3 linked regions of the Homo sapiens genome follow. The protein of the gene in region 2 binds, or shares a complex with, the protein of the main gene of each other region. Each region holds a gene or a part of one and is shown on either strand. Other genes may lie near its edges.

Evidence for each region. The genes of interacting proteins can lie anywhere in the genome.
Region 1: the proteins of IKBKG (region 2) and IKBKB are in contact, whole or in part, in a crystal structure (PDB 3BRV), measured with the Homo sapiens proteins. Residues at the interface, in NP_001093327.1 of Homo sapiens: Arg62, Ile65, Arg66, Asn69, Leu72, Arg73, Arg75, Cys76, Leu79, Phe82, Gln83, Gln86, Lys90, Leu93, Met94, Phe97, Ala100, Arg101, Val104; in NP_001547.1 of Homo sapiens: Ser705, Leu708, Glu711, Ala712, Leu715, Cys716, Leu718, Leu719, Ala722, Ile723, Asp725, Thr726, Glu729, Gln730, Gln732, Phe734, Leu737, Asp738, Trp739, Trp741.
Region 3: IKBKG (region 2) and CHUK share a complex: the UniProt entries of both Homo sapiens proteins name them as parts of the I-kappa-B-kinase (IKK) core complex.

Annotation. Positions count from the first base shown.
Region 1 is NC_000008.11:42,316,187-42,323,700, reverse strand, and holds part of IKBKB (inhibitor of nuclear factor kappa-B kinase subunit beta), read right to left. Parts: intron 7,492-7,514; coding exon 7,362-7,491; intron 6,992-7,361; coding exon 6,797-6,991; intron 6,045-6,796; coding exon 5,930-6,044; intron 5,150-5,929; coding exon 5,026-5,149; intron 4,432-5,025; coding exon 4,280-4,431; intron 4,117-4,279; coding exon 4,055-4,116; intron 2,967-4,054; coding exon 2,857-2,966; intron 1,806-2,856; coding exon 1,756-1,805; intron 1,648-1,755; coding exon 1,548-1,647; intron 1,355-1,547; coding exon 1,207-1,354; intron 1-1,206.
Region 2 is NC_000023.11:154,557,146-154,564,659, reverse strand, and holds part of IKBKG (NF-kappa-B essential modulator), read right to left. Parts: intron 6,129-7,514; coding exon 6,010-6,128; intron 4,254-6,009; coding exon 4,101-4,253; intron 2,973-4,100; coding exon 2,876-2,972; intron 1,851-2,875; coding exon 1,707-1,850; intron 1,102-1,706; coding exon 959-1,101; intron 702-958; coding exon 640-701; intron 342-639; coding exon 199-341; 3' UTR 1-198. UniProt on the Homo sapiens protein: Regulatory subunit of the IKK core complex which phosphorylates inhibitors of NF-kappa-B thus leading to the dissociation of the inhibitor/NF-kappa-B complex and ultimately the degradation of the inhibitor.
Region 3 is NC_000010.11:100,226,198-100,234,270, reverse strand, and holds the start of CHUK (inhibitor of nuclear factor kappa-B kinase subunit alpha), read left to right. Parts: upstream 1-4,674; 5' UTR 4,675-4,738; coding exon 4,739-4,843; intron 4,844-8,073. Other genes in the region: CWF19L1 (CWF19-like protein 1), read left to right, coding at 900-1,044.

The DNA of each region.
Region 1 (7,514 bases), on a different chromosome or scaffold from region 2:
TCTGGCATGCGACCCCAGCCCCTCTGTTCTCTGCACTGTGTGTGGATTGTCCCCTCTGCCTTTGACAATGAGAATCTCCTAATGCACCATCTCCTGCTTCCACCATGAGCAACCATCTCCCTCTCTCCTTCCCTTTGCTCTTAAGGGAAACTGACACCTAAATCACTCTTTCATCCATGTCACCTTCTCTGCAGCCTTTCACAATGGGGCTTGCAGTCCCAACAGCTCTGGCTCCCACAACACGGCCAGGCCTGCCCGTCTCAGTTCTTGGCTGTTTTGTTTCCCATTTCCCCACCATGTGGCATCCCATGGACTCACAGCTACGTTAAGACGGTGTGCACAGAAAGCGTGGCTTACTGCACTGAGGGCAGTGCAGACGCAGACGATGGTCAACCAAGTTGCACTGCCGTGCATGACGGTGGGCTGAATTGGTGGCCCTAAGAAGGATATGCCCACATCCCAACTCCTGGAGCCTGTGAGTGTGACCGTACTTGGAGAAAGCGTCTTTAGAGAACCTGAGATGACATCACCCTGGACTACTTGGGTGGGACTCAAATCCAATGACAAGTGTTCTTGTAAGAGTCACCCAGATAAGGGACACAGGGGTCCCATGAAGACAGAGACAGAGACTGGAGTCACACACCAAAGAACGCCTGGAACCACCAGGAGCTGGAAGAAGCAAGGACAGTCCCTCCCCAAGAGCCCTCAGAGGGAGCTCAGCCCTGCTGACACGGGACTTTCAACTCCTGGGCTCTAGAGCTCAGATAACACGTTTGTTTTTGTTTTTAGTAGAGACAGCTCTGCTGCCCAGGTTGGAGTGCAGTGGCATGATCACAGCTCACTGCAGTCTTGAACTCCTGGGCTCAAGCAATCCTCCCACCTCAGCCTCCCCAAATTGCTGGCGTTACAGGCATGAGTCACCATGCCTAGCCCAAATTTCTGTTGTTTTAGCCCCTCAGTTTGTGCTAATCTTTACAGTAGCCACACGAAAGTAATACACAGATGAATGAAAACAATTAGCACAGGCCCTTCCTCTGACCTCCCCGCTTACACCAAGTCAAAGAACAGCGACGTGAAGCCCGAGCAGCAGCTGAGTGGGCTGCTGGTGGCTCTGTGGTGTCCCGTGTGGGATGGCGGCAGTGCACAGAGGTGGAAAGGCACAGGAGGCTGCTAGGCCAAGGGCCCGGGACCACAGCACTCACTCACACAAGCAATCTTCAGGAGATTCCAGAGCTCCTTCTGCCGCTTCTCCTGCAGCCGGACAACAGTCTTCTCATCCTCATTCATTAAGCTCACCACCTCTTCCACCTTGGGCAACAGTTCCAGCGCCTTCTGCTTGCAAACCACAGTTTTACTGCAAAGAATAAACATGGCAAACTAATGGCATTTGGGCTGGAGAAAGCAGAACCTGTGGCAGCTGTGCATCCAGTCAGCAGCTGCAGAAACTCTCTTCATGAGGTCCAGCGAATCAGAGAGGAGGGAGGAAGGTGACCTCATACCTGCATCTCCCAGTCCTTCCTCCAGAGCAGGAAGGTCGGGGCTCATACCTGAGCTGCGTATAGATCACTCGCACTTTCTTCTCGAAGCTCTGAATTGCCTGAAGCAGCAGCCGTACCATTTCCTGACTGTCACCCTCAGTTCGCTGGTCTGGAGAGAGGGAGGGTAGCATAGTTCCTCAAGGAAGCCAGCAGAGAGTAGTGATGCCCCATAAATGAGATAAGGAGAAGCCCAAGGCAGACACAGAACCCCACTTACCTCGAGGTTTTTCCCTTAGTCTCCTGTACAGCTCCCTTGCTTGCTCCTCTCTAAAATATACAAAGAAGTTCTGTCTAGACTTGAGGTCAAATATGGCTAATTTTTACATTTTTTTGGTAGAGGTAGAGTTTCACCATGTTGCCCAGGCTGGTCTCGAACTTCTGGGCTCACAAGCAATCTTCTTGCCTTGGCATCCCAAGGTGCTGGGATTACAGATGTGATCCACTGTGCCCAGCCAAAAACATTTTTTTTTTAAATTAGCTGAGCATGGTGGCATGCGCCTGTAGTCCCGGTTACTTGGGAGGCTGAGATGGGAGGACTGCATAAGCCTGGGAGGTCGAGGCTGCAGTGAGCTATGATTGTGCCACTGCACTCCAGCATTGGCAACAGGGCAAGACCCTGTCTCTTAAAAAAATAATACAAATACAAATAAAAGAACTAGAGGAGAATAAAGGGTTAATTAGAGAAAATACAGAATCAAAGTTCTGACATTTGGAGCTCCTGTCCTAAGAATCCTAGTGAGAGAATCAGGGAACACTGCTGAGCTCACGGTGACACAGCCCTCAAGCGGCCTGCCTGGTTCCCTCCATCTGTACGCCAGGAGCACATGTGATCTCCTTCAGGTAGGAGTGATCTGCCTAGACCCCTCCGCCCCTCATGGAGCCAATGCCAAATACCTGACAAAGACTCAAACGAATAGTTTCCAGGTCCAAACTCCTAAGCCTCATCAGGTTCTTCCTTCTCTGTTTTACTTTCTGCTCTGAGCTATGCCTGAGTCAGGGTGGGTGGAACAAATCAGGGGAGTCTGCTACAGGGGTAGAGGCTGCTTGCATTTTACAGCCTTTACAGATTATGGCCTGCGTCTCAAATGCATTATCTGAATTCATCCTTACAACTTCGTGACTTAAGACTGTTTTTCTTGTCACTGAACAGATTTGGAAACTGAAGCTCAGTGATGATTTGCTGGAAGTGACCCCACAGGGAAGCATGCTCTAGAGAATGGTCCCGCACAGCCACTGAGGGTGCCCTTGACACACACACCGAAGCTCCAGGGCTGTCTGTGTGTGCTGGGCACAGAGGGGCCCCCCAGCCAGTACTCACAGGTCGTCCAGCGTTCCCCCCTGCTTCCGGCCCATGGGGCTCCTCTGTAAGTCCACAATGTCGGTCTGCAGAGCCATCATCCGTTCTACCAGGAGTTTCACTTCGTTCTCCTAATGGAAAAGCTGTGCTAATGTCAACTGATGTGGTAGGCGCATGCTGAGATGCAAGATCTGCGGGGGAGCGAGACCAGGGGACCCGCCACATTCCCTGAGGACCCTCAATGGACTGGCTCAAAGGAATGTGGACTGTGGGGTCTGAATGGCTGCGCCTGCATCTAGGGTCCACCGCTTTCTAGCTGTGTGACCCCTTGGCAAGTTACTTACCCCCAGCTACAGTTTCCTTTTGCATAAAATAGGCTTCTAACAGGGCCATCTGAGGAGTCAAGTAAGATGAAGTACTTAAAGCCTCTGGCATGGTGCCTGGCATACAGAAGATGCCCAAGACACATTACTTTCTCTTCTCTTCATCTGTCTATCCTGATGCTACCCGGGCAGGGAGGCCCAGACTGTTTTATTTCACAGATTATGAGTCCCAAGATGGGGAGGAGCACTCAGCCCTTCTATGGTTAATATTCACCATTAAACACACATATACTCCATCAGTACTGATTCATAAAAATCGATACTAAGACACAGGTGAAGATCCTTGCCCAAGTACACAGGGGAAAACAGAGGATAAGTCCAGGAAAAAGCCCCGGAGCCTGACTTCAACCTTCAGTTTGTGTGAGGTTCATTAAGTCACATGTATTTCCTTTGCCTTCATAATTAACTTTTTTTGGTGACATCTGATTTACGCTGCCCTGAGACTTTCTGCCTAGACCTTTTATTTCCTATGGATTTAGCATCCCAACAAAATTAGTCAAAAACCTTCGACAAGAGGGAGTGTTGATCATCCATCCAATGCCCTTCCTAACAGGAAATGGTCTTGGCTTTTCCCCAAGGGAACCTAACCCTTGCTTCTTATTTAAACCTGGACCATCTCTGTCCATTCATGCAGCTCTTGCATCTGGCCACAGAGGGGCTCCCTTCACTGGCTACTCTCTTGGCCTCTTTTCAGCTGGTCCAGTTAAGCTCAAAGCATGGTGAGGAACACCTGATTTTTGACAGAGATCGACCCAGTGTTTGATGAGAAAGTGAAAAGTGGGAGCACAAAATCTCACCCCCTTGGTAAGTTCCGAAACCCAAAATGAGTCTCCTACCCGCCCACAGAGCTCCACAGCCTGCTCCATTTCCCTCCAGGCCAGCAGCAGTTTATCTGATGCTGAAAAAAAATTGAGAAGGAAAAACAAAACAAAACAAAATAAAAACACCACAAAACTGAAACAGAAATAAGCAACTCAATTATAATAGGACAAAAGAAACCTTAGAAAGAGAAAAAGAAAAAAAAATGGTGTCTTTAAACTCATTGCAAAGTGCACACTCACTGATCCCAAACTCGGTTTGCTCGCTGTACTTCTCCAGGTCAATCTGGATGCTGGTTTTGAAGAAATCCAACTTGGCCTTGAGCTGCTGAGACATGGAAGCCATGGAATTCTTCATTTTGGAGAGGCAGCTGTTGTTTCGGAGGAGATTCATCCTGCAGGGACCACAAGGAACAGTCTTGGAGCATCTCTGGGATCCAAATTCCATTTCCTGTACAATAACAAAACCCCCTCAAATGTCAAGGGAGGTCCCTGCTATAATTATTATCATCATCACTATTATTATAGCAGCCACTTATAACCCAAGGACAATTTCCTAGCCCTCAGCAATGCCTGAGGTTCTGCACTAAACTTGACATCAGGCAAAGGAAGACACAAAAGGCCAATAATGTTGGCAAACGAGTCACAATGAGGAAAGAGTCCGTAAGTCCCCAGCAGCACGGTCAGGGGAGTTTTGCTAATCCACATGGTAGTGAGCTCCTCTGGGTTCCCAAACCAGCCACAGCTTGGCCAGCCCAGCTTCAGTTCCACACTCCTCACCCTGTGCCAACCACACTCACCTCGCCAGGTCTAAAGGGGCCTCCGTCAGTCCAGCCCACCCAACCGCTTCCCGTCCATCCAAACCAGTGTCTTCCTTTTGTTGCTCATAACGGTTGCTTCTGGGTCCCTGCCTCAACCACCTCCCTGTGGCCAAAGCCACCAAGGAATTTTAAATAAATTAAGTTTAAAAAAAAAGCCTGGCACGCTACATGGCGGCTCGCTGTCCCTGCTGCAGCCGGTTGCAATCTTCCTTCAGGGTCTGGATGCTGTGCCAGACCTGGCCCCACACCTTCCTCAGCTGGAAGAAGGCGAGATTCCTCTTGGGCTCTTGAACTGGAGACAGAGACACAAGCAATTGTCAAAGAATAACCACAATAACTCTCCTACAATTAACCATATCCTGCCTTCGACACTACTGGCACTTTCACGTTTTGTACCTACTATAGGATCATGTAACTTTGGAGGGTGTTATGCCTGGTTACTGTCACATACATGTATTTGTACCAACAGCATGTACCAGTGGTCAATAAGTAGCTGTTGATTTGAAGGAACACTTTACGAACCATTGGACACATATGTATATAGGGCCATATATTTTCAACAGAATTTTTTTTTTTTTTTTGAGACAAGGTCTCGCTCTTGTCACCCAGGCTGGCATGCAGTGGGGGTGATCATGACTCACTGCAGCCTTGAACTCTCAGGCTCAAGTGATCCTTCTGCCTCAGCCTCCTGAATAGCTGGACTACAGGCATGCACCACCACATCTGGCTAATTTCTAAATTTTTAGTAGACTTGCGAGCTTACTATATTACCCAGGCTGGTCTTGAACTCCTGGGCTCAAGTGATCCTCCTGCCTCAGCCTCCCAAAGTGCTGGGATTACAGGTGTGAGCCACCACGCCCGTCCTAGGAGGTTGAAATTAACTAATGGTTTCCTGTACTCTCTCTTGCCTGGCTACTCCTTGCATGTCCTAAATAAGGAAGGCTGCCCTGAGGACTGGCGATATTAATTTCCTTTACGTGGCTCCCCCTTCCTTAGTCCAGTCTCCCTTCCCTGCCTTGTCCCACATATTATAACGGATTATTTAGAAAAACAAAACATAACAAATTCTTACGGATACAGCTGACACTTTCAGGTTGGGGCCGTGGGGAGATCTGAGTCTCATAGGTGATTTTACTGTTGTCAAAGAGAAAAACAAGATCCATGTCCAATGTGTGGCCCTCATTTAACTGCAAAGGGACAAGGACAAAATGAATCTTGTGGATCCAACCCTCTCTTTTCTAACTGATAATGAAGAAGTTCCACAGCTTTCCCCACTGTTCAGCAAGAGCATCATCTTCAGCCAGCAAGTAGGAAGCATCCATGAAGTGTTTAACGTTTCCAGCCACACTTACTGTCTGAACACACTCTTTATTTACAAACGTATTACATTCTATTTTACTCTCTGTCTTCCCTGGGAAGTTCAGAAATTCACTATATACTTCCCTATGCAATGATTATTTCTCATATGATAACTTTAGCTCCACAAGTCAGCTGAGAAGGTCTTTTTGAGCAGAGGTCATGTCTTACACAGCTATAGTTAACACAGGTGCCTAACCCAGTTCTGTACACAGAGGCCATCATAAATACTTTCAGTTGACTCAAGAAAGTGCAGCATCCTTTTTTTTTTTTTTTTTAGTACACTTGGAAGAGGGCCAAGCAGGCAACTTGAGAGATTCGAGTGTTATAGCATCATTTTTTGCAATAAAGGCAAGAGACCGGTCTTGGAGGGTTTGGAAGTAACAAGTCCAGCAAGGAGATTTGTGTTTCCTATCAGGCCACACAGAGGACACCATACTCCAACTTAAAAACCAGCCAGGTATCCGCACTGTGTGATTAACAGACTACATGACAAAGCAGAATTGAAATCTGAAAGTGTGTTGAGTTTCCCAGGAGGCACAGCCAAGGTAAACAGGATGGTGTGTACGAAGCCAGGGCTCACCTTGCCGTCTGAAATACACTGAGTGGCAGGCTTATCGGGGATCAACGCCAGGCCCGCTTCCTGCAGCAGCTCCTGGTCCTCCTCTGGGATGCCCGTGTCCTGTTGGATTCTGGCCTTCAAGCTCTGCAGACTCTCATCCTCTGTCACAGGGTAGGTGTGGATGGTGCCCGTGACCATGTTCAAGATATGAACCAGCTGCAACACAACCCAGATGTTACTGGAAAACCGATTTCTTCAAGGAAATGCCCATCTATTTGCCTAGGTCCTCTCTCTGCTACTCCCAACATTTCCCAACCACACAAAGCAAGGGCCTAGCTTGAGGGAGGGAGGTCATGTGCCATGTTTCGCATATTTGCATCTTTCATAATCCTGTCTGTGGCTATGACCTCATAGCCAATGTCAATTAGCACAACTGTCCTTTCTTTACTTATGCAGAAAGACTGATGCAGGAGCCTAAATTTCCTCACTAGGTCAGCTGGCCCCATCCCCTGCTCTGTCCTAAGAACTGCATGTTCCACTGGGGACCCCAGCTTTTGCCTCAGGGCTAACTTGGCTCCACACTCACCTTTAAGTTTAAGATGTCATCCAGGGCCTTGAAGCAGCCATTGGGCCCATACGTGGGATCCGTGCCCCTCTGTCGGGGGTGCCACATCAGCATCAGTTGCAGCCACTTCTCCAGTCGCTCAGCCAGGACACTGTGGAGAGGAGCATAGTGTGT
Region 2 (7,514 bases):
CTACCCCAAAAGAGGGGACCAGCGGATCAACAGCTGAAGCGTAAGGTGCCGCGGCCAGCTCCTGGGTGGGGCTCCAGGTGGCATCCCAGTTGTGGCCACCCAGCCCTTCATCCTGGGCTAGGCAGGCGGGAGAGGAAAGCGCAGACTGCACGGTCCCGGGCACGTCCTCGGCAGGCAGTGGCCTTGCACTGGCCGGCCCTACTCAATGCACTCCATGACATGTATCTGCAGGGTGTCCATATCAGGGGCCTGATACTGGCACTTGGGACAGCAGAAGTCAGGTGGCTCCTCGGGGGGGCTCCTCCTCTGGCTGGGCAGGGCCAGGGGAGAGGAGAGGTAGGCTGGGAAAAGAGAAGAGTCAGAGGGAAGGGGAGGATGGAGGGGGACGGAGACTTGGCAGGACTGTCAATGGCAGGCCTGGTCTCACAGGCCACTCATGTAAGACCAGGAGCCGCCGCTACCACGGCATGCCTCCCTTAGCCTCGGGGAAGGGGGTGGGCTACCGATGGGGTGGCCTACACGAGCTCCCGCCGTCAAGTCTCCAGAGAGCAACAGGAAGGTCGAACTGTGACCTCCCGCGGCGCAGCACCTGCCCTCCCCACCCACCTCCTCCCGCAGGCCCAGTTCTCGCTCACTCACCAGGGGCGGGGGGCAAGGGGGCCTGGGAGACCTCGACATGCCGCTTCCTCATGTCCTCGATCCTTTGGAAACAGAAACCGTCCAGTCAAGCCACGCATTTCTGTAAAGCTCCTTGGCTGGACTAGTGTCAAAGCAGCTCTTGGAAGCTCAGGTGAGAGGAGAGGGACCACAGTGAGCCCTAACCCAGAACACCAGGAGCCATCCGTCTCCTGTGGTCACCACTGGCAACCCCCCAGTGTCGCACCCACTGCGGGGTCACCACTGGCGACCCCCCAGTGTCGCACCCACTGCTCACACGGGCACGCTCTCAGAGGCCCACCTGGCCGACTCCTGACAGCTGGCCTTCAGTTTGCTGTACTCCCTCTGCAGCTGCTCCAGCTGCTCCTGCAGGAGCTCCTTCTTCTCGGCCAGCTTCTCCCGGGCCTGCCTCTCAGCCTGGAAGTCCGCCTTGTAGATATCCGCCTGGCAAATCCAACAGAAAGGGATGTGCCCGCCACAAGCCAGCCACCCACCAGGCACTGCGCCAGGCACCACAGGAACAAAGCAGAACCCACTGCTGTCCTCCCAGAGCCCCCAGCGGCGCAGAGGAAACAGATACGTCGGCGAGTAATGCCAAGCTCACCGAGAGGTCTAAGGAGCAGCACAAGTGGCTCAGAAGCTTACGAAAGGCCACTACAAAATGATGCCAAAGAGGCCGGGTGCGGTGGCTCACGCCTGTAATCCCAGAACTTTGAGAGACTGCGGTGGGCAGATCACCTGAGGCCAGAAGTTCGAGACCAGCTGGGCCAACATGGTGAAACCCTGTCTCTACTAAAAATACAAAAATTAGACGGGCATGGCGGCAGGCGCCTGTAATCCCAGCTACTCAGGAGGCTGAGGCAAGAGAATTGTTTGAACCCGGGAGGCAGAGGTTGCAGTGAGCCAAGATCGTGCCACTAGTGGCACTCCAGCCTGGGCAACAAGAGCAAAACTCAATCTCAAAAAGCAAAAGCAAAAAAAAAAAAAAAGACGCCAAAGAGACTCTCCAGGTCCCAGTGCCAGGGTGGGTCAGAGAGGAGGGCCCTCACCTGGGCCTTCAGCACCGGAACGGTCTCCATCACAATCTTGTGCTGCTCGGCCTCCTCCTTCAGCTTATCGATCACCTCCTGTTTGGCCACCAGGGCCTCCTCGGCCTGCTGGAGCTGCTGTTTGAGATCTTCCAGCTGCATTCCCTAAGGACGGGCAAGGGGAGCTGACGGAGCCTCGTCAGCCCAGGGCGAGGCTGGCTGAGAAGAACTGAGAAGGATGAAAGAGTGGCCCTGGCTGACCAGGCTGGGTGATGCCAGCCCCTGATTTGAGGGCCCATTGCAGGATCTCAGCGTGCACAGGGAGATGGCTGCGTCCTGTCACGGCCCAAAACGACAGAGGAGATGCTGAGGTTTTTTTCAGGACTGAAGAGGCCGCTGAGGTCATCTGGTACAACCTCCCAGCTGGGCCGACATTCCCTTCCCAGAATCCCCAGCTCCACAGCCCTCCTCCCACCCTTCACAGGCCACAGGCCACACCCACTCACAGCCAGCCGGTCCTGTGCCCGCCATGTGCACAGCTCAGCTGAGAGCCCTCAGTCCTTCCACTCTGCCACCTGGTCAGAGGTGCACTCCTCCCACGCAGGCATCTCCAGCCCCCTGAGACACACACAGACACACCCCACCAACGCCCCCCTCCAGAGATTAAGTGGCCAGTTTTGTAGCTAACTCTTCCCCATGTGACCTGGCTTCAGGCTTTGTCCTTATAAATCTCCTCTGGGTACACTTACGATTGACGGTGTCCTGCTAAAATGTGATCACTAGCAAACTGCACCCCAGCTTAGGTCTGATGAGGACAAACTAGGAAAAGGCTCCCAGCCAACACTGGGGTGGAAATGCTGTCGGGCTTACCTTGGCTTGGGGGAAGCTGAGCCAGGTGCCAGATGGCGATGGCTGGCAAGAGGGAATGTCCATGGAGACAAGACGTCCCCAGCCCCACAGAGGGAGCACCCCAAGGCTCTGGCCCAGCCCCCCATTAAGATGGCCTGCTGACACTCCTGAGAGCAACATCCTGGGGTTGCCATCTCCCCACAGCTTCCCTGAGCTGTCGCAGCTGCAGCCTGACACAGGTCTAAGGCAAGTCTAAGGCAGGTCTACCCATTCTCAAGGTTCAGGGCCACGGGGAGAGGAAGAGGCAAGGCCAGCCCTAGAGCCCCAGTGGTCGCACTCACTCGCTTCCGCTCACTGCCCACCACGCTGCTCTTGATGTGGTTGTCGTATTCTTGGAAGAGCTGGTGATAGGCCACCTGCAACTGGGCCAGCTTCCTCCTGAGGAAAGGGAGCTTTTGCTGGAGAAACCACCTCATGCCAGTCCAGCCACGGTGCTGCCTGCTTCCAACTCTACCCCCTTCCTTCCCTCCCTCGCATCACAGGCCTGGAATGGGGTCTTCCAAGGCTGTGTGAGGACTCCTGAGGCCGTCAACTCTAAAGCAGGCTTTGGTGGGCTGGTCACCAGGCAGTTAATATCGTTTTCCTAAAAGCTAGTATTTTTAATGTTTATAATAAAATCGCGGCCAGACGCGGTGGCTCACGCCCATAATCCCAACACTTTGAGAAGCCAAGGCAGGAGGATCGCTTGAGCTCAGGAGTTCAAGACCAGCCCGGGCAACATAGGAAAACGCCACCTCTACCAAAAATGCAAAAATTAGCCAGGTGTGCTGGCCTGCGCCTATAGTCCCAGCTACCTGGGAGGATCGCTTGAGACCAAGAGGCGGAAGGTACAGTAAGCCGAGATTATGCCACTGCACTCCAGCCTGGACGGTAGAGCAAGACCCTGTCTTGAAAATAATAGTAATAATACAATGGAACTACCCTGCACTGTTCAAAACTGTGAACTTCACAAACAGCTCAGAAAGGCAGGGGAACTGTTCTAGATTAAAGGAGACTGAAAAGGCACGCCAAGGACAGGAACCTGAGGTCCCAGATTGGATGCTGGTAGACGGGGGGGTTTGGGGGTATTTTTGTTGTCTTTCTGTTGCCCAGGCTGGTCTTGGAACTCCCGGGCTTAAGCCATCTACCCACTTTGGCCTCCCAAAGTGTTGGGATTACAGGCGTGAGCCACAGCACCTGGCCTAGAAGGGGTTTTAAAGGACAAGTCCCCTGATGACCTAGTGGCTAGGAAAAAAAAACTACAAAAAAGGCCACGTGTGGACACGCAGTGAAACGTGGTCTGGAGAGCAGATGGCATGACTGTATCAAAGACAAACCGGGTGTCATCATGGTCGCCTCTACCGTTAGCAAGGCTAAGGGACAGAATGGGCCCACAGCCACAGGCAGAATCTGAAGGAGTCCTCAGAAGGCAGAAAGAACCATGGACCCGACACTTCTCAGCCTTTCGGCTAAGATCAAGTGTAGAACCACAGACCCTGCGGTGCGGCCCCGCCCCCGCTGACTCACTTCTCCTCCGAGGCGGCCTGGCGCTCCATGCGGAGCGCGGCCTCCACGCTCTGGCCCTGCATGCGCAGCTGGTCCACCTGCACGCTGTGCTGCTGCTGCAGCGCCTCGCGCTCACTCTCCAGCTGCCGCGCCTGCTCGCTGGCCGCCCGGGCCCTGGCACGGGGAAAGAGCAGACTCAGGGAGGACGAACGGGGGGACGGCAGGGGCTATGCGCAGGGCGTGGGCGGGGGGTGGGGGTCGGCTCTGAACACCCTGTGACTGCGAGCTGATGCCAGGCGGCAGGGTGGAGGCACCGTCAACAGACACGAGGACAACTGCAGGGGGCCAGGTGGGAGCAGCAGGTGAGGAGCTTTGCTTAAGACGTGTTTGCTTCAATGCAGGGGCCCAGCAGGTGACCAAGTACAGATGGCAAGGAGACCTGGAAGCCAGGGGAAGGGGGTGGTCCGAGAAAAGGATGGGGTCGCCTGCATCCCGCAGTGCTGGGGCCAGGTGAGAGGAGCCCTCGGAACTGCCCGTGGAGTTCCACTGGGGGACTGCTGGGGGCCCCAGCAAAAGCAGTCTCAGTGGAGGGGGTCAGGAGAGACTGCTGTTCCAAAAATGAGAGACTGCCCACCTGGGCGTGCAAGCACTGAGCTCAATGCAGACCGGGCCTCGGCCCCATCCCTGCTGCTGCCCAGAGCTCTGCTGGAGTCCCAGACGACCTGCTCGGATGCTCAGTTCCCACACCTGCCCCCCTACAGCTCCCTTAACCTCCAGTTTCCAGGGTCTGGCCTCATCCCACCACACCAAGCCCTTCCACAGCCTCACTGCAGGGACAATGGTGGGTGCATCTGTCCAGGTCCTGGGTGGCCTCTGGCCACAGGCAGACACGGCCCTTCTCCAGTCACCCCAACTCTGCCTGGCAGGCCTGGCTGCTTGGCTCTCCCCTCCGCGCCTGCCTGCATACTGCCCCCACACCCTGCACGGGTTCCCTCTGCCCATCAGAGCCTGGGTCAAGCTCCCCTCCCCTCTGCCCTGCTGGCTGCCCCAAGTGCACCTTGACCGCCTACTGTGCTGGGATGGCTGGGGCCCCCCTGGCAGCTGATCCATCTGTCTGGAGGGCAGAAGCAGGACCGAATGAGAACCACAGAAACCTCCCTGCCCTTTGACCCAATGGTCCCACTCACAAGAACCAAGACCCCTTTGCAAAAGAGAGTAACCAGCAGGCCTGAGGCCACCGGCTGGCAAGGTTGGCCCTTGGCTGGTGAAGTTCCCTTGCCACAGTGACACTTTCTCTAGTGGTCAGGTCGGTCCCTGCACCTAGGCCATTTGTAGGAAGAACGTGGTTGACGTGAGCACCCGCTCTGCTGCTGGGAGTCGGGGATTTAGGTACCTGCCTGGCAGAGGGCGCTGACAGGACCTGCCCCCAGTAAACACCCAGGGCGCTGAGTCTCTAGCGGGCATCCCTGGGCAGGAACACGGCCCGTGTGGGAGGCGCTTCTCACTGTGCCGCTCGCAGGGCAGCGGGAGGCTGGGACAGGGCTTCTCCAACTCCCCCCACGGCTCCTGCCCTGGCGGCTCCTGCCCTGTGCCTTTTTCCCTGTCATCAACCTCAGCCACGAGGGCGACTGTGCGCCGGTCCCAGAAGTCCTTCCAGAGAACTAGACACTGTGGGTGTGGGCTCGGGGCCCCCAGAATGCCTCCTAAGGAAATAATCCAAACTCCATCAAAGGGTCACAGAGTGCGGAGAGCCGGCTGGGACCCAGGTCCCGGATGCCTGGCCCAGACCTCTCCCGACGTCTGCCCCGACGTCTTTACGCAGCCTGCCCCGGTCTATCCTCATCAAGGAGCACCCTGGAGGCCCCTAAACCCACCTCATTGCTTTTGGAAACCCTGGAAGGGGTCTCCGGAGCCGGCTCCCCCGACTCACCGACCCTCCAGAGCCTGGCATTCCTTAGTGGCAGCCTCCAAGCGACTCTGGCTCTCCTGCAGCTCCCCGAGCAAGGACGTCACCTGGGCTTTCACAGAGGCCTTGTCCTCAGCCATCTGCTGCAGGATAAAAAGCCACTTCCTGTCAGCACTGCTTTCTCCCCAGCGGCCCACTCCTGCCATCCGCAAGCCCGGGGCAACCCGCAAGCGGCTGAGGCCTGCGCGCCATGAGGCCTTTTTTCCTGCCCTCGGCACCCCCAAACCTGGGTGCCCTAGGGCCTCATGAGCCCAAGGGCCACCCAACCCTCCCCAGCTGCCCACCTTAACCCTCTGCCACAGGGTGACACACAGATGGGGCAAAAAGAGATCCCCAAAGAGACGAAGGAGCACAAAGCTGCCTTGAGGTTGTCAACGGCTTAGTCACTGCCCCGGCAAGCAGGCCTCGAGGGCTGAACCCGGTGGCCTTGCAGCTACAGCCCCAGCAGGGGATCTCTCTCCGTCTCTCTGAGACTTGGGACAAAAGGAGGCCAGACACGAATAGGGCAAAGTAAACACAGGCCCCAGTCCACACCCGGGGCCGCCAGGATGGGAGAGTTTGTGCAGATCAAGAGTGGACACTGAATTTTGTTAAACACTGGGAACTGCAGAACCTCTCGGCAGGCACACTGCACTCAAACCCCTGCCCGAAGACACCCGGCCACCACCTCGCGGGGCCTCTGGGAGCCTAAGGCCGCGCCCCTGGGACGCCCCAGCCCCCTTTTGAGTGAGTTCCCGTCTGGAAACGCTCAGGGCTGCCCAGAGCATGTACTGTCTGTTCCGGCCAACACCTGACCTCCCTTTCTGACAGCATTTACTACAAAGGGCTTACCCTGTCCCTTTGAGACATCTGTGTAGCACCCACAACCCAGGGGCTTTCCCGAGGGCCCCGCAGCCACTCCTTGGAAACGGAAACCTCAGGAGGCGCGGGGCCCAGTCTCCCAGTCTCCACGGGACGGAAGCATCCCAACCTTGGTAAGCACCGGCAGCTCCCACACACGGCTGGCCTCGCGGCAAGGACGCTGGCTGCCCCGTCATCTTTCACCTGAGCCTGCACTCGCCCCCTCCCGACTCCCTCCTTCTCCCTTCGCAAGGCCAGGCCGCCTCTGCTGGGGCGGGAACGGAGCTCAGCTCTCTCCCCCGCAAGCAGGGGTTTCTGAAGAAGATCTCTTTTGCCAGCTTGAACAAAGGCCCGCTTTTGTGTACCTTTGTGTATCTCCGGTGTTCTTGTCAAAAGAGGAGGACAGGCACAGAGGCCCGCGGGGACAAGGCCACAGGATGACGGAGATGGAGGCTGGAGAGGTGCAGCCGGCGGCCCCCGGCGCCGTGGAGAGGCCTGGAAGGCAGCTCCCTCGCGGCCCTGGCGGGGAGCCCACCCTGCCGACACCACCGCTAGCTCAGCCTCCAGGCCTCCAGAAGCGGGAGGCCACGCGTTTCTGTGGCTTCGGCCCCGCAGTCTGTGGTGCTTGG
Region 3 (8,073 bases), on a different chromosome or scaffold from region 2:
TCTATTTTCCTTTTATATTTGAAATAGGCTCAAAGTTTGCCCAGGGAGCTTAGGTTCTTTGACTTATAGAGAATTCATGATTTGTTTCTAACTCTTCTATTTACTGTAACTTCAAAGTGGAAAATGAACCATATAAATGTGTAATAGAATTATTTCTAATATATCAAAATAAGTAAAAATAAAAATATAAAGCAATGGCGATTAGAAGGCAGCTTGTGTGTGAGTGTGTCTGTATGTAGTTATTCTTTAGTCCTAAGAGCCAAGATAGTTGTTTTGTTGACATTGGGCTTGTGCTGCTGTTACGTGGGCCTGAGTCCCCTAGAAGGAGAGGCAGAGGAATTTTAAATCAGAGTGGGTATGACTAGGCTCCTGACTCTGCAAACTCATGTCTAGTTGAGGTGACAAAACTACAGTTTAAGGCAGGTTGTAATCACAGCTAATATGGCACTTTGACTGTGTTATCTCTGTACCTCACAAAAACCCTGTATGGTGGGTGTTCTTATTTGCATTTCATAGGTGAGGAAATCAAGACTCAGAGATGAAATCATCTGTCTAGATCATAGATAGCAAGTGGCAAAGCTGGAAATGGGATCCAGTCTCTGATCTTTCTCACACCAGGGCCTGCCCTTTTTCTATGTGGTGTTGCTTCTCTAAGTACCAATAATATAGTTCCAAGTTTTTTAAGAGAGGGAGAAGCAAGTGGGGTTTGAAGGATCAGGAAATATATAGTACCTGAGCTGGTCATTTAAAACGGGTATGATTTTGATCAATAGTATGGCAGAGATGGCACTCAGGGCAGGAGAGCAAAGTCAGAGAAATTTGCATACCTCCTTTGGGTGATGTTGAGGAGAGCTCAGGCTGATAGTTTCCATTTTGACTTCTTTGTGCTATTTCTGCAGGGAGGTCCTGGCCAGTGAAGCCATCCTTAATGTTCCTGATAAGTCTGACTGGAGGCAGTGTCAGATCAGCAAGGAAGACGAGGAGACCCTGGCTCGCCGCTTCCGGAAAGACTTTGAGCCCTATGACTTTACTCTGGATGACTAAAACAAAGGGAAGAACTTTTTATGAACTCCACAGGAAGTAGTAAAGCTTTTTTTTTTTTTTAATTAAAAGAATTTTTTTTGAGACAAAGTCTCGCTCTGTCACCCAAGCAGGATTGCAGTGGCATAACTGTGGCTCACTGTAGCCTCAACCTCCTGGGCTCTAGAGTTCCTCCCACCTCAGCCTCATGAGTAGCTGGGACCACAGGCGCATGCTACCATGCCTGGCAAACTTTTTTGATTTTTTATAGAGACAGGAGGGTCTCCCTGTGTTGCCCAGGCTGGTCTGTAATGCCTAGGCTCAAGGGATCCTCTGCCTTGGCTTCTTAACCTGCTGGGATTACAAGCATGAGACACCATTCCTGGCCTAGAAGCCTATTTTTAAAGAAACTACAATCTCCCATGGGGACTGTTTCCCTGCCTCTTTTGTGCAGTCCCATGGAACTTGCCTACAGCAAGAGGCCTAAGATTGAATCTTTTTGGGGAAAAGTCATTCTAGGATGAAAATCCTATGTTAAGGCCGGGCGCAGTGGCTCACGCCTGTAATCCCAGTACTTTGGGAAGCCGAGGCAGGTGGATCACCTGAGGTGAGGAGTTTGAGACCAGCCTGGCCAACATGGTGAAACCCCGTCTTTACTAAAGCTACAAAAATTAGCTGGGCGTGGTGCCAGGCACTTGTAATCCCAGCTACTCAGGAGGCTGAGGCAGGAGAATTGCTTGAGCCTGGGAGGTGGAGGTTGCAGTGAGCCAAGATCGCTCCATTGCACTCCAGCCTGGGTGACAGTGAAACTCCATCTCAAAAATAAAAGAATAAAAGTATGTCTGTCATCCAGCTCCTATGTCTGTTATCCAGCTCCAAGTACAGCTTGTGTATATCAACATTTTCAAAAACCTTTAAACTACCAAATGAAATCCAGATGTTTTTCCATGGTTGAGAAGTGTCTTGTGTTCATGTTGCCTGTGACCGTTGAAATGAAGTAGTATGTGTAATAGCAGGGGCTAGAGCTTTAGGCCCAGCTGTTACTCCAAAATCACACAGGGCAGTTTCTCCCTGAACAACCCAAAGTGGAAAAGGGATCCAAGGCTTTTGCTATTTTTCTCTTAAGCATTCATCTTATTCATAGATAAGAGCCCATTTAGTCCTTCGGATATTTAACTCCTATGTGCCAGGCATTTTTCTAAGCTCCAGGACCATAGTCATGTCCCAATATGGTCCCTGTTGTCCCAGAGATTACAGTTTAATGGGGAATAGAAGGGACAGATTTAAGAAAAAAAAGATAATTCTCCTTTGGATATTGTTTTAGGTGCTTGATATATCTAATATGTGTCTGTTGTGCTGCTGGGCAGTTCTAAACTCATCAGTACCTGGGTTGGTTACAGGGCTTTGGGGATCATCAGGGTATAGGCCATAGGTGAAATTAAGATAGGGTAAATACAGTCCTGAGCTGAAGATGATTACCTGAGAAATATCAGTATTTAAGGAGTGCTTGAAAATAGTGATCTAACATTTACATAGAGAAGGAGCAAAGAGAATGCTACATATTAGGCGCAAAAAGAAAAATATTTTTACCTTTATATTGGGCACTTATGGTCCAGACACTGTTTCATTTAATCTTCACAAAATCTCTGTGAGGTAGGTATTACCTCTATTTTACTCATGAAAAAAAAACTGAGACTCGGAAAATTGAAGATTGTGGAGCCTGGGGTCAACAGGCTTAGGCTTTTTAAAAAACAGGCCAGGTGGCTCATGCCTGTGATTGCAGCACTTTGGGAGGCTGAGGCAGGCAGATGACCTGAGATCAGGAGTTTGAGACCAGCCTAGCCAACACGGTGAAACCCCGTCTCTACTAAAAATGCAAAAAATTAGCTGGGCGTGGTTGCATGCGCCTGTAATGCCAGCTACTCGGGAGGCTGAGGCAGTAGAATTGCTTGAACCCTGGAGGTGGAGGTTGCAGTGAGCTGAGATCACACCATTGCACTCCAGCCTGGGTGACAAGAGTGAAACTCCATCTCAAACAATAACAACAACAACAACAAAAAACAACTCAAATTACTCATGGCCCTGGGAATGGGGGCATTTAAAAAGTTAACCAAGGGAACCAACCTGGTTTCCACAAAGATGGCCACTTCTGGGTCAGCCCAATCATCAGTATCCCTGGGTCCTCAGCATCCCTTCCTACCTCTTTTGACTGGGAATTACGAGATTACAGCCCCACCTACGGAAATTGAGCACATTAGCACTGGCCATGCTGTACATACAGCAAATGAGAGGGCTTCATACTGTTACAACAATCTGTACCACAATTCTCTGTGCGGTCTGCCCAGCTCTAAATGACATGTCCTCAGAGGCATCATCATCTCCAAGTCCATGGAAACCATGCACTTACAGAAACCAGAACCTCCCATACCACATGTTACTAATGACCTACAACATCGACTTCGTCTGTATCATGCAGTGCTCAACATTCTGGTTGCAGCATCACATTTATCAATAATTTGATTCCATGCTGATTCCTTTACTTGGAGTATTGAGATCCCCCAGGTACAGTGAAGGTATGACCCTCTTAAATGGAAGACCAGGAGTTGTTTCCCCTATGCTATGGCAATCCGCCACCCGGAAGCACTTGCTGCACCAACAGCATTCCCAAAGCTTGCCTCTGCAGCCCTGTAGCACCCATTAGAAACACTTCTCACAATGAACTACTGTGCTGGCAAACCCATAACTGGACTGCCGGACAGCAAGCTCTGTGAGGCATCTAGGAAAAAAGCTCGCGAAATCCCGAGAAACACTCTTCACTCCGGAATAGCGTCACATTCTTGAGTCATTTGGGATGACAGGGGATATCCTGGAGCAGGTGTATTGGGAAGTCAGTGAACAAGAAGGCTAATTCATTAGTGGGCCTGCTAGCGTAGTATTTTAACGATTTCGCAGCCTTTAAATCATTGGTGGTCTTTAGCGTGCCGGATCAGCTGGTGGTGGAGTTGGAGGATAGATGGCAGGGATCTGAAGAAAGGTGAAGTGTAGATAGGAGTAGAGACAATATGAAGTTTAGAAAAGACTAATTGCTGGACGCGGTGGCTCATGTCTATAATCCCAGCACTCTGGGATGCCAAGGTGGGAGGACTACTTGAGACCAGGAGTTCGGGACCAGCCTGGGCAACGTAGCAAGACCATGTCTCTACAAAAAATAAAAAATTAGCCAAGCGAGGTGGTGCGCGCCTGCAATCCCAGCTACTCGGGAGGTGAGAAGATCGCTTAATTCCGGGAGGTCGAGGCTGCAGTGAGCCGTGATCGTGCCATTGCACTCCAGCCTGGGCAACGGAGCGAGACCCCATCTTAATTAAAAAGAAAAAAATACAGGAGAGACTGGGCTGCTTTGAAAAGTGGATTTGACGGGAATGTGGGGTTTGGAGAGATCTTATGTTTTCCAAGACTAGAAAAACATTGTGGTTCCGTTCAGCCCTCCCGGAAAATACGTAGGGGACTTAAAGAGCGGACCGAGTACCTGTTTGTTTCCCCATCCCTTAGCCGGCAGGGCTCTGGCAGCGCCCTGGGAGAACTTAGGGAAGGGCCTTCTCGCAGCGGTTACCGGAAGTGACGCATTCATTCTCGCGAGAACAAAGACGCGCGAGCATCGGCGGCCCGGAACCGGCCTTGGAACAACTGTGGAACCTGAGGCCGCTTGCCCTCCCGCCCCATGGAGCGGCCCCCGGGGCTGCGGCCGGGCGCGGGCGGGCCCTGGGAGATGCGGGAGCGGCTGGGCACCGGCGGCTTCGGGAACGTCTGTCTGTACCAGCATCGGGTGAGGCGGGGCGTGAGAGGGAGCGGCGGTGGGTTGGAGCGGCGGTGGGTTTGAGCGTCTGTGGAACACAGGGCTGACAGTGTGGGATAGATGGTTGGTGGGACCTTGGGCAGTATTTGGGGGCCAGTGGGCTTGTGTGTGTGTATTAGAGAGAAAGATACTATGCCTGTGTGTCCAAAGTTGTATTTGAGGTACTGGGCATAGATAGAGCTGTTGCGGGGAACTTGGGTATGACTGTCAGGCTGTGACCAGGTGTTTAGTGAGTGTGACAGTGCGTGTGTGTCTCTGTGAATGTGGAGTGTCAGGGTGTGTGAGGCAGATGCACGTCACAGTGTGTATGTAGGAGCACGAATGTGTGAGAAGAGGGCTGAAGGGGACTGCCTTTGGGAATGTGTGCGTCCGTGTGTGTGTGTGTGTGTGTGTGTGTGTGTGTGCGCGCGCGCGCGCGCGCTTGGAGGCCATATGATATCAGTGGGGACTGGAGTAGACAAGGAAGGCTTCATGATGGGTCCAGAGTTAAGCCTTTGGAAGCATGGATGGGCTTTGGAATTGGGGATGTATTCCAGGTCGGGACAGTATGAGGGTGAGTTGGTGCAGAGCATGGCTTCAAACGAAAGGCTATATTAGTAGATGGAGATGGGGGGCGCTCTAGTAGGTGGAGGACAGTTAACATCAGACTCAAGAATTTTACTTTGATTTAATAGAGAATGTTTAACCATTGTAGTAGCAGTTAAAAAATCATATTTGGGTCTTGTTTGTTTGTTTTTGTTTTTGAGACGGAGTCTCACTCTGTCGCCCAGGCTGGAATGCAGGGCGCGATCTCGGCTCACTGCAGCCTCCTCCTCCCGAGTTCAAGCGATTCTCCTGCCACAGCCTCCTGAGTAGCTGGGATTACAGGCGCCCGCCACCGTGCCTGGCTAATTTTTTTGTATTTTTAGTAGAGACGGGGTTTCACCATGTTGGCCAGGCTGGTCTCGAACTCCTGACCTCAGGCGATCCACCTGTCTCAGGCTCCCAAAGTGCAGAGATTATAGGCGTGAGCCACGGCACCAGGCCTGGGACATGTATTTTTTGATATACCGATAAAAGCTGTGAACCCTTTCCCCAGAAAAATGCACAGATGCACATTCACACAACCATGCATTGCCATTTGAGAGGTTCGTGCCTTCCTAAAGGACATTTTAGGTAAATAGACCCTGGACTAATAATTCCTGTAATATAGGCTTTGTTTTGTTGCCTGTAAAGTAAGTATAGTATAATAATTACATGCATCATGGATTTGAGAGTTAAATAAAATAGTAATGTGTGTAAAGCTAAATACGGTACCTGACCCATGAAAGCCCTCAACTGTTAGCACCTGCTGCTACTTTGTTGTTGTTGCTGCTATGATCATAATGCTCCTCATTAATTGGCCTTAAGGAAATGTCAAGATAAAAAGTGTTGTTCTAGGAAAATGGTTTTGTAAAGGATAAATTTGAGTGGAACAACATATGGGACAAGATGAACAGGTAAGATCTTACTAAAATGCCTGGGCTTGGCTTGTGAATAGAGAAGTTAATTCAAGAGGAAAAGTAATAATTTGTTATCTAAAGGAACATGGGTGTAGTGAGAAAGCTCGTAATTTGGGGTGGGAGAAAGGGGAGATAGGAGTCTACCTTGGGAAAATAGGCATATTTAGGGTAATTAGAATGACAACTGAAACTGTTAGAACTGAGGAAGTTTTGTGAACCAGGTTTCTAGATAGGGCATAGGAGAAAATCTTGGAGAAAGAGAATGGAAGGTGAAGGACTAAGGCATTAAGTCCTGTGATAGCAGGATAAGTAGTAAATTTAATAATTCTCACCATCAGAGGGAACATAACACACTAAAAAAAAAAAAAAGTGGGAGCCAAGTGCTTCCAGTGGCATGTTGCCTGTGTTACCTAAGCCTGCCTATCCGCCTGGTCATAAGGAAAAAGGATGCATGCTGGCAGCTTTTGTGACTTCTTTTCTTGGTCCCTGGGTGGGGATGGATGAATTAATCACTTTTTGTTTTATTATGGTAAAGTATACATAACACAACATTTATCACTTTATTTTTAAGTGTACAGTTAGGTGGCATTAAGTACATTGACGTTGTTGTACAGCCATAACCCTATCTCCAGAATATTCCGACTTTTTTGTTGTTGTTGTACATCTATAAACTTCCCATAGAATATTCTTTGTGAAAAGGTAGAATTTCACAGAGTTGATGAAATATAAATTAAGGAGTTGAAGGATCTTACAAAGTGGGATTTTTGAAATAGATAACTTATTGCTCCATTAACATGAGCATTCAGGGCTCAGTGTTGTTCATGGTTGTGCCTGATTCTCATTTCCATGGTGGTAAAGGCCTGCATGGGACATAGATATAACTGGTCACCTGCTCATAACAAAAGGAAGATTGAAGGGAGTGAGAACTGTGGGTAGGCTAGCATGCAGTCTATCCTAGTTTCCTTCTTCTCTATGCACCAGGTATCATCTTATCTCTAGCTTCTTTTTTCCTCTCACCCTCCAATTCACACTACCCTATCCAAGCTATGTCTTGCTTCCCCACCTATAATATATTTTTTCTGTCCTGGCCCCTGGGCTCTTCTCTCTGTATTCATACACAGCCTTTATTACAACTCTGGTTTGTGTCAGAGATTACATATGTTGGAAATTCTTTTGAACTCTCCTTGTGATATCAGAAACATAGTGTAGCCTGTTTAGCCCTGACTGCTATTTCTGAGCTGCATTATTAATGTTGCCAGAATATGATGGGGTCTGGCTATTTCCTGTAATATGCATCAGAATGGGTTTAATTTCAGTCAGAATTGGCTAAATTACTAGTCACAGGCAAGAGATGTTAGGTTCATTATGTAGCTATGGAAGCAGAAGTACACTCATTGGTAGGATTTTTTTTCTTCATGTCATTTGAAATGCATACATTAGGATTGGAGTTTTTTGCTTTAGGCTTGGTTATATTAAAACTTTCTCTTGCTGTTTGGAGTCCAGGAAGCCCTGAATTACCTTCTTCATTTTAGTTATGCTAGAAGCTGGGGCACATATTAGTTGTCTTGATTAAGCTCTGAAAGGGGTTTGCTGAGGAGACAGGATCTTTTTTTTTCTAACATTATATATGAGAGAGAGTTCTGAAAAGACCTGTTATAAAATCAGTTTCAGGCACTTTTCCCTTGTATGCTGTTGTGTGTTTGAAGGTCAGTTTTAAAG